Linked DNA regions of Homo sapiens: region 1 is linked to region 2. Evidence: fine-mapped expression QTL. Tissue or cell type: prefrontal cortex. Region 2 holds a variant in brackets; the other region holds the start of a gene. All regions are shown on one strand. Distances are between the middles of the regions.

Region 1 (5,151 bases), 92 kb before region 2:
ACTAAATAAAAATTACCTGGACACTTGCTGAAAATACAGATGCTCTGGCTCGGGCCCAGAGATTCAGGTTCAGCAGATTCAGGGTGGTGCCTGGGAATCTGCATTTTATCGTCTTCAAGGCTGAATCTGATGAGAAGACAAGTTTGGAAAAAACAGTAAAAGATTGTTGCAGATATTGTGAAATGTTTTGCTAGCTAGCAGGGAATGTCAATATAGATAGCTTTAAGCAGAAAAAAATGTAAAACATTGTGTTTTTTAGTTTTTTTCAAGTAATATAACATAAGGTTATAGGGGGAAAATACCAAAATGAACAATAATTTTCCTGACTAAATAATGAGCCAAAACTCTTTCCCCTAGCAACCACTATTAAGTTGCTTGTGATTCCTTCCAGAACCACAAGAATATGTCTACATAATATTCTAATATACTACAGTGTATAAAGAATATGTATACATAAATATACGTAAATATACCTGGTCTTTATGTACCTATTTGTAATAAAAGGAAACATACTAGGCTATTCCATACCTTTTGTCACTTAAAGAATTTTCTAGGCAATTGTTATATGCCAGCACACACAGATCTACTTCCTTCCTTTACACAGCTGCATAGCTGGTTTTCTACTGTGTGTGAACTACAATAATCACTGTTGATGGGCACTTCAGTGGCTTTCAGTTTTCTGCTACTACCAAAATACACTGCAAAGAGCATCCTTTCTCAGATGCTTTGGTGAACTTTTGCAAGAATGTCCATGGGGTTACTTCTTAGCAGCTGGGTTTACAAAGGATATGTACATTTACAAATTTGATGAATATTACCAAATTCCCTGCAGAGAAGTTGCACTTATCTGTAATCTCACTATTGGCATATGAGAGTACTCATTCTCCATGCCCTCACCAGCACTGAGTTTCATCAGATTTTTTTTTCGAGACAGAGTCTCGCTCTGTCACCCAGGCTGGAGTGCAGTGGCCCGATCTTGGCTCACTGCAAGCTCCGCCTCCCAGGTTCACGCCATTCTTCTGCCTCAGCCTCCGGAGTAGCTGGGACTACAGGCACCCGCCTCCAGGCCCAGCTAATTTTTTGTATTTTTAGTAGAGACGGGGTTTTGCCATGTTAGCCAGGATGGTCTCGATCTCCTGACCTCGTGATCTGCCCGCCTTGGCCTCCCAAAGTGCTGGGATTACAGGCATGAGCCACTGTGCCCGGCCTCAAATTTTAGTATTTTATTCTGTAGTCAGGCAAAAACTCATGTTTTCTTTTTAAATAAATACGTCTCAGTTTTGACACTGCTATTGATTTAAAGGGCTTGAGAGATCTGTTCTTTTGCCCCTTCTACTACAGAGCTATGATCTACTTCTTGCTGTTCCCCATCTCTGCTGGTTCCTTTCTGAATCCAAGCACCAGAAAGAGTAAGAATTCCTTTCCCCCTTTCTCTAACCACATTTTTCTTGCTTTCTCACAGACAGATCCAGGTTATCATTTCCTCCTGCTGCTTTCACATGGTTCCCTGTCCTGTTGGTTGCAGGTCCAATGTCTGACACTATGAAAGGGCATGGAGGACTCTTGAGTTGATGACACTAAGCCTCTGCTCTGGGGCTGCCCCCAGTTCCTTGCAGAGCTCTTTCTTTTGATTGGGCCAGGAGATAAAGAGACATCAGCGTAAAAGCCCTGCTGAGCAGCAATCCCATTGCCTTCAGTGGCACCTAATCCACTTGAGCTCTTCCTGGCTCTCTCACGGGTCACTGGCTTTGAGGACGCAGGCTGCTGGGGTGGCAGTGCCTGCTAACAGGCCAGAGACTGCGCAGGACCCAGGGAATGAGAGTGGTGGCAGGAAAGGGAAGGGGCCTTGTTGACTCACTCGCTGGGCAGCAAGTGCTTAGTGACAAGCAGTAAACAAAGACAGCGGCAACAGTGCTGGTGGCAGGGAGCTCCGCGGACAGACTTGCAAGAGACCCCTGCTCCTTGTTGGAAAGTTGTCCCATGATGAAGGCCTAGACCTGGTCACGGAGACTTTTGGATGCAGCCTTTAACGAAGGACGCAGGTATTCCTTGGCATCATTCAGTTTTCTCCTATAAATCTGGTCAGGGAAAGGGCAAACTTCTTACTGGGTCTAGGTATCCGGAATAAGAAGAACACAGCTGGGCAAGGACCTGTGTCAGTGCCCTTTGTGGTATTATTTGGAGTATTATTTGTTCCAGGCCATTGGCTAAGCCTGATAGACATTGTATTTGTTTTTTAGCAATAAAGAATGGGCTCAGAAGAGAAAACATGGACTTTAGAATCAGACCACCCCTTGTTTGAATCACTGCTTTGCTATTCAGCATCTGTGCAAATTCAAATGACTCTTTTAACTTTCCTAAGACTCGTTTTTCTTACCTGTAAAATGGGGATAATAATGCCCCATGCGTTACGATGTTGCTGAGGATTCATGGGGTGACACGCGTAAGGCACTTAGAACATACTTGGAGCATTTGAGTAGCCCAGTAAATCATGGCTGTCACTATCTTTCAGAAGCAAGTGTTTTGGTTATTGCTTAAAGAGTATCAGTGGTTTAAAGTAAGAAGACTCAGGGTATGCCTAGCTGACTTCCAGAAAACAATGGAAAAGAAATGATTCACCTGGCTTTATTTGTATGCTTAAAGGAAAGAAAAAACTCAGTTGAGGTTTTCAACAGTGTAAACAACTTTTTTTTTTTTTTAAAGCAACAATTGAGTTCAGAGATGAGTCGTGTCTATTTCTCCTGGCTAAATCCTGTGATTTGCTATAGGCTGTAGCTGAAACCAATTAAGTAGTTCATTAATTCAACGAGAACTTACTTGGTATCTCCTGGGGCCACATGCCAAATGCTGGGGATGTCTCCCCCAGCCCAGAGGATCTTCCAGGTTGTAGGACAGTGGGGGTCGGGGGGCAGAATGCTGGACCTGCATGAAAACTGGCGGTGATAGCAAGTGCCGAAATGGAGGTGGCACGGGCTCCTGGGAGAGGTGTTGCTTGAGCATGGCTTTAATGCTAAGCGAACACTAGCAGGAGTTGGGAGCAGGGGGATTGGAAAAGGCATCCCAAGCAGAGAAAAGCACATGCAAAGGCCCAGTGGCATGAATAAGTAAAGCATGCTCTGGGAACAGCAGGCAGTTTGGCCTAACTTTAGTAAAGTGGGAACAGGGGAATCTGATAAGAAAGGAGGCTGCAGAGGTGAACAGGGGAGAGCAAGGAAGGCCTTCTATGGCCCAGAGTTCACTCAGAAGGTCCCAGATAGGCACTGGTAGTTTTAATGAAGGATGTGTCGTGTCTGCATTTAATATTAAGAAGATTAATCTAGTAGCAATATGGGTGTGGGATTGGAGAGGATGAAACCTGGAATGATGACAGATGGCCTAACCTAAGAAAACAACAGTGGAATGTAGAGAAGGGGAGGTCTCCAAGCTGGTGCTGCCAGCACTGTGAGCAAAAACAAATACATATGCATCTAATAAGTTCATTATAAATTTTACTGATATGAAGGATGTATATTGCACAATTTACAAGTAATAAAATATAAAATACTCTTTATTACAAATTCTATATAGCCATTTGATTCTCACAGCATGCATTTGTTGATTTTTGCTGAACTCTTATACCCTTGGTCAGCCTGTTTGCAATTGACCACTGAATGTAGTTCCAATATGAATGTTGGTTGATATTTTTGTTTACATTGACAAGTAAGAAGAAAGTGAAACAATGAAGATGATTGTCTTAACTTCACTCATCTGTCAATGACATGAGTGACTGCTGGATCAGATCATAGTTTTTGAATTTGGAAGAGTGTTTTCCCAATTTTTGTGTTATTCACAATGTAACAACTATGGACGCGACACACTTTTAGGTTTAATCTGCATGAACATTTTCTCCATCACTTTCTTAGTTTTCTTAGGGAATGAAAAAACAGCAAACCAAGCCCTAATTTGTAGCTTTTGCCAATTTTTGTGGTATAAATACTACCACCATGGCCAATCACAAGCTCCCAATGTGATATCGCTGAACACAAAGGTGGAAGGGCTGTGCACCAGCACACCATTACACAGTATTTCCATCATAGAAATGTATTTCATTTAAATAAGTTCCAAAGCACAGACAACAGTAAAATGCAGTAAAATAATTTGGAAATGGTGAGTTTCAACATATTGTTAATATAACTTATTTAATTGGAGATTTTTATAATACTTTTTGGTAATGGCTGTGTTTAATGACCAGCTTACAAAATTTCTGGAAATTTAACAATTGGCTCTCACAGGCCAGTAGGAGCCTTCTTCAGCATATCACAGAATCCAAGAAAGGTTTAAGGAGCAGAATACAGAGTGGTGAGAAAATGACTCATGGGTGCAAATGAAGGGGGCACGAAGGAAGAATTAGGAAGAATACTTCCTTCTCTCTGGGGATGAAGCTGTCACTCACCAAAATGTTGGACTTATTAAAAAGAACACCATGAATAGATGACTATGAATTCAACTGCTCAGGAATAGCAAGGGCTGCGGTGTGCAGCCCAGGACAATGCTACCTGCAGCTCCATTAGTGAAGTCATTTCTGGTCTGAAACCCCAGTTTTGCTGGCTTGTCTCTAGCCTATTCCCTGCCCTCTCCATATACTCAGGATTCATAATATGAATAGCTAGGATTTATTGAAAAACTGCCATATGCCAGACACAATAACTCATGGTATAAACGAGTAAAGAGAGGAAGTAACTTGCCCACGGTGAGGTGGGATCAATCCAGCTCTGACCTCGGAGCCTGCTCTTCCAGCCACTATGCTTTTCTATTCTCATTCCCCTCCTGAATTGTATTCACCCTGAGATATCAGTGTTTTTAGCTGCTTTCCTGGCAGAAGTCTGCTTTCGAGGCTGATTCCTATTCCTCAGGCTTCCTTTTACTGGTCGCTGGCAGCTCTACTGTTAACTGCCCTCCCTTTTTTTTTCTTGCCTTGGCTGTAAGCCTCCTTATTCCTGTATTTGCTTGAGCTATCATAGCCCAACATTGTTGGAAATAGAGTAGGTAGTGAAGGGAGGCAGGAAGGAGATGTGTAGGATGGTGCACAGGAACCAGTTCCAGGAGGGCTGGTGCCAGGCAGGAGGCAGATCAAGGCTGAGCTGTCAGAACTCACTCTTCAATAGATTCAAG
Region 2 (5,151 bases):
TATGTTTTAACCCACTCTTGGGAGCTTAAGAGGCTCCCCTGTTTTCAGGAGTACATGATTACTGTGAGGTACTAGACCTTGAAGTCCACGTAGGTCTTCTATATTGCTTTCCTCATGGTGTTGGCTTGCAAAGAAGCAGTGTAGTGGCACAAATTAATAAGCTTTGCAATTTCAGGGGCAGAATGGGCGTTACCATGCTTGTCTTGCTGAAAGGGAGTAACCTACTCTAATTTTGTTAGACACGGCTGGATACAACCAGTCTTTTTTTTTCTGTCAACTCTCCTTGCATGGCAGGGAGGACCTTTTTATTGCCACCCAAAGTCCTTGTTGATAGGGTCGGCTCCAGGATTTCTATATTTTGTATAGAATCCTATACAAAATTTCTATATTTTGTATAGGTATAGCAATCAGCTGGGGAGGAGACAAGCACTGTTCTTTGTTAATCTTTTGTTTTGGGTTTAGGGCTACATGTGTAGGTTTGTTATTACAGGCAAACTCGTGTCACAGGGGTTGCTATACAGACCATTTCATCACCTAGGTGCTCAGCATAGTGCCCAATAGTTATTTTTCCTGATCCTCTCTCTCCTCCCATCCTCCTCCCTCAAGTAGGCTCTGGTGTGTGTTGTTCCCCTCTTTGTGATCATGGGTTCTCATTATTTAGCTCCCACTTGTAAATGAGAACATGCGGTATTTGATTTTCCTTTTTTTTTTTTGAGATGGAGTCTCACTCTTTCACCCAGGATGGAGTGCAATGGCACGATCTTGGCTTTCTGCAGGCTCCACCTCCTGGGTTCAAGCAATTCTCCTGCCTCAGCCTCCTGAGTAGCTGGGATTACAGGCACGCGCTGCCACACCCGGCTAATTTTTGTATTTTTTAGTAGAGACGGGGTTTCAATATGTTGGCCAGGCTGGTCTGGAACTCCTGAACTCAAGTGATCTGCCCGCCTCAGCCTCCCAAAGTGCTGGGATTACAGGCATGAGCCACTGCACCTGGCCTTTTCTTAAAGCTGAATTTTCGTGGCAAGCTCGCTCTTCTTACTTGATGTGCATGTTCCTGATCAACCTAAAGAGTAAAGTACTTTTTGATGATGCTTTTCTTCATCCTTTAGATAAGAATGAGAGAGCAACAACTGCCTATATTAAAGGAAAATACTATTGTTTTTATCGGGACCAAGCTTGAGGAGCCTGGAGGAAGTAATGGGAGTAGGCTAACATCCCTTCTCCCTAGTTTCCTGAGACCAATGCTGCTTTTTGGTTGGGTGATCCTGTAAACTAACAGCAGACCGCCTGCAAATTCAGGCTCATGATTGCTTCTTCACACTTGAGGGGTGTTGTACAGTTTTCCCTTGTATACAGGAGAACTTCCTGTCACACCAGCCAGCATTTTCTAGGTACTAAATGCAGGCACTGCATTTGCCTTGCCTTCTGAACACTTCTGCATGCATGCTCTCTCACTCTTGTACCTGTACACAGTGCCATGCAGCTCCCCTGTCCAGAAGCTATGGGTGGTGGAAGGTGGCCATGCTGGGGTCTCAGCCCCACACCCTTCATCCTGGGGTTGAAGCCTTCTCAGGGACTGGCCTCAGTACATCTCCAATGCCAGTCTCTGGCTTGCTGTCTGTTGGATTTCCCAGCACCACTGCTCTCCTTTCTGCAGTGGTTCAGCAATCCCTGTGTTTTCTTCCACATCCTCCACTGACAGGAGCAGTCAAACCATCCCATGTGTTGTCAGGAAACACAATGCAGGTGACCAAATCACAATTCAGCATAGTCCAAGGATGGCCTGCTGTGATGGAGGTTGTCAAAAAGCAGTACTCGAGGTCTGCTATTCTCAAACCACAACCTCACATTAGAATTCCAGACAATGAGTTTCCCACAATGGCTGGGAATAAAATGTCCTTTCACTGTGGCACCCCAGCCACCTTTTGGCAATGCTGCCTTCATCATGGTGGGGTTTCCTCATAGCTGGGCCACTGCCAGAGGAAGATGTTTCCTTGGTGATGCTGGCTGGGTCTCCGTGGCAGAGACTTGACTACCATGACTTTCTTCTATCTCTTTAGGCTGCTGTTAAGGCAGCTGGGCTAGATTGGAGATCAGGATCAGACAGATAAAATGTCCATCATGAGCATCTGTCATGGTCTACAATAAATTGAGTTTC[C/A]TTTACCAAAAAAGGTCTCCCAGCTCATATGTCTACTAGGCAGGACACCAGTTGCAGCATGGTTTGACTTTTCATTTCAATCGTAAGTCCCATCCTCACCTCTCATGGAGGATGTGGAAGAGAATGAGCCGATGCTTATGACACTGCCAGAAGGACAATGATGACAGAATCTGTGAATGAAAGGGCCAGAAATACAGCATTATGAAACAGTGGCCCTGCCACTCCCTGCTGGATACCTTTAGATTTGAATAACTTCAAATCAAATTCATTAAATCAGATTTATTTAAATTGAATTCATTCAGCATGTGAGTTTGGGCACTTCCCTGAGTGTTAATGAGTCTGTATCAAAAGTAGTAAATCTACTTGTATCCAGGTCTAAAGAAAATCTAACTGTTATTCATTCCTCCCACATATATTTGTGGAGCAGCTAATAATAACATGTTAACAGTAGATACATTTATTGAGGCTCTACCATGTACTAAGCTGTGCGTGTCTGTGTGTGTGTGTGTGTGTGTGTGTATGAGAGCCATATATATATATATATATATGAGGGAATATATATTCTTTCATATATACATATATATTTTTATCTTTCTTAACATATGTAAAATCTTTTCTGTACGTATAATCTCTAAGCCTCACCAACTCTACAATATTATTGATATTGATATTATCTCTACTTTAGATACAGGAAAATTTAGGTTCAGTTATGTTAAGCACCTTGCCCAAGGTTTTTCTACTGATTCACAACCTCACGTTCTTTTCTTTGTTCTATGCCAGGTCACGAGTCAGACACAGGGTGAGCAGGAATCAGTGGCCTAGCTTTCACTCACAGGGGCCTGCAGTTTGGTTATTACCAAGCCTCCCAAAAGGACCTGATACGTTGGTTTTTGGATCACATGGTGGCTGCAGATGTGCTCAGTGGGGTGTCCAGGAGAGGCTGGGTTTAAGACAGTTCCCACATGCTGGCTGTAGCATTTGGGGCAGGACACTTAATAGCTTTGACTCTGTTTTCTCATGTTTGAACTGGGATTACACCTTCCTGGTGGGTTTGCTGAGAAGATGGGAAGATGTCCATATCTTCCTATATGTATATCTAAGGTGCCCATCACATGGCTAGAGCTTAATAAGGGATAGCTGGCCTTATGAACTTCTTTTGAGCCTACGCATTCATAGTTGGGTCACGTAAGCTCTATCTAGGTTTCTAAATCCCATGTAGAATCTTCCCTTTCTCTAATCTAAATGTAACATCTTTCAGGAGGAGCTAAATTCATATTGTACCCGAGCAGCTATAAACGATCACTCTGTCACTGGAGGAAAACGCTGTGCCCACATAGAGATGCCACCAAGAAACCGGCCTTTTTAAGCTGTTGACTTTTTCTTGGCTTGTTTTTATAGGTGTTGGTGGAAATAACCCAGATGAAGAAAAGAATAGCACAGCCAATTCTGGGGTCTCCTCTACAGACATCCTGAGCTTCGGGTACCAGGGAAGTTTGTTGTCACACACACAAGACCAGGACAGAAATACTGAAGAACTAGACATGGCTGGGGTGCAGAGCTTAGTGCCCAGGCTGAGACATCAGCTTTCCTTTCTGCCGTTAAAGGTAATCATCCCTTGGTTTACTTTCTAGATCTGGATGAAAGAGAACAGACTGTGAAGCCCAACAGCCTGGCCCCTAGGCCCTTCCTGTTCTCTGTTTTCCATGTCAGGTGGATGGAAGTTACTTAGCCCCTTTGAGCCACAGCTTCCTCATTTGCATACAGAAGCAAATGCCTGCATGGCATGGTTGTTGAGAAAAACGCATAGAAGAAGGCAGAGTTCTAGGACAGTGTCTGGGCACAGGCTCAGTGTGGGTGCCTCTGGAGTCTTTAGTCACTAATTATAATTGTTGTGATAATAGCACCATGAGGAAATTGATTGCTGCCAATGGCAAGGCGTGGGCAACCAGGCACCTCCTATTCTTGTCCTTGAATTGGTCCTCAAGCTGGGAACTCAGTGGCTTTGCTCTTGACCATACCCCATGGAGGAAGAAGATGGGATCTGGAGTAGGTGTATGGAGGGCTGTGTGCTTCAGTCCCAGCTCTGCTGTCCTCTGCCGTCTCTTTGGATTCCCAGTGGTGTTGTCTTCTCAGGCCCCGCCAGACCCATGCCCCAGCCTCTCCATTCTGCTCTGGGCCCTGCACAGCTGGTGCTCATGGACTGAGTCACCTTGCTGTGTTCTGCTTGGTTCTGCCCAGTCGAAGCCTCAGCAGGAGCCCGCAGTTGTGGGATGAGTGAGGACAGGGTGGCAGTGCTGGAGTCTCAGTTGCACACCCTTCATTCCACTCTTTCCCTGTGCTGACACAGGTTGCCTGTGCCCCTCTACAAAGAGCACAGCTCCTATCAGGGTCCATCGACCACTCCCTTCTCTCGCCCTTCAGGCTCAGGGGTGGTCACAGCACCCAGTGTTTCCAGCCCCAGGTGCTGAACTGATATTACTGGTTTCTCCAAAGGCTGGCAAGACCTTTGAAAACAGGTCTCCCACGACCTATCCTCCCTTACTCAGGCTGAGTGTATGCCCTTCTCATTCTTGCTGGGACAACTTGCTGGTTGAAACAGGCAGGTTATTGCACCTCTTTCAACCTCGTTTCTCTTTTTATGATGGAGATAATGATGTCTGTCCACAGCCGTGGAAACTAAGGTACTATGCCCAGTGTCGGGGATAAAACCCGTATCTTTCTTCTACTCATCTTAGCTTCATCAGCTGGGACCCCTGTAACTAAAGACAGATTAATGAGAGAAAAGCATCCACGTGTATTTACTATAAGTTTTATGTGACATGTGAGCCTTCTTATGGAAATGACCTGAAGAAACAGTTCTCCCTGAGTATATTTGATGAAGAATGGAGAGTCATGGAGAAATGAGATAAGACAAAAAGCAGGAGTATGTAAGGTGGGAGGAACTCAGCAAGGCCTGCTTGTTCAGATTCCTCTCTCAGTCCCTGTGTCTTCCC

Which allele goes with the higher level. Alleles are on the strand shown, and positions count from the first base shown. SD is a standard deviation of normalised expression in the study named.
In carriers of allele A in region 2, the expression in prefrontal cortex of the gene that starts at base 1,889 in region 1 tends to be lower than with C alone (moderate effect, 0.67 SD a copy in GTEx).

Evidence for each region. PIP is the estimated chance that this variant, and not a neighbour inherited with it, causes the effect.
Region 1: FRMPD2 starts here. The variant in region 2 is fine-mapped to the expression of FRMPD2 in prefrontal cortex (GTEx, PIP above 0.99).

What each region holds. Positions count from the first base shown.
Region 1 is chr10:48,271,434-48,276,584 of GRCh38, reverse strand. It overlaps FRMPD2 (FERM and PDZ domain containing 2), which reads left to right and starts at 1,889. Exons shown (of 29, transcript NM_001018071.4): 1 at 1,889-2,042. The coding sequence starts at 2,018.
Region 2 is chr10:48,179,414-48,184,564 of GRCh38, reverse strand. FRMPD2 (FERM and PDZ domain containing 2) reads left to right here. Exons shown (of 29, transcript NM_001018071.4): 21 at 3,557-3,762. Among named protein-coding and RNA genes, the nearest start is that of FRMPD2, 93 kb to the left of the region's middle. The variant C/A (reference allele first, on the strand shown) is at 2,159.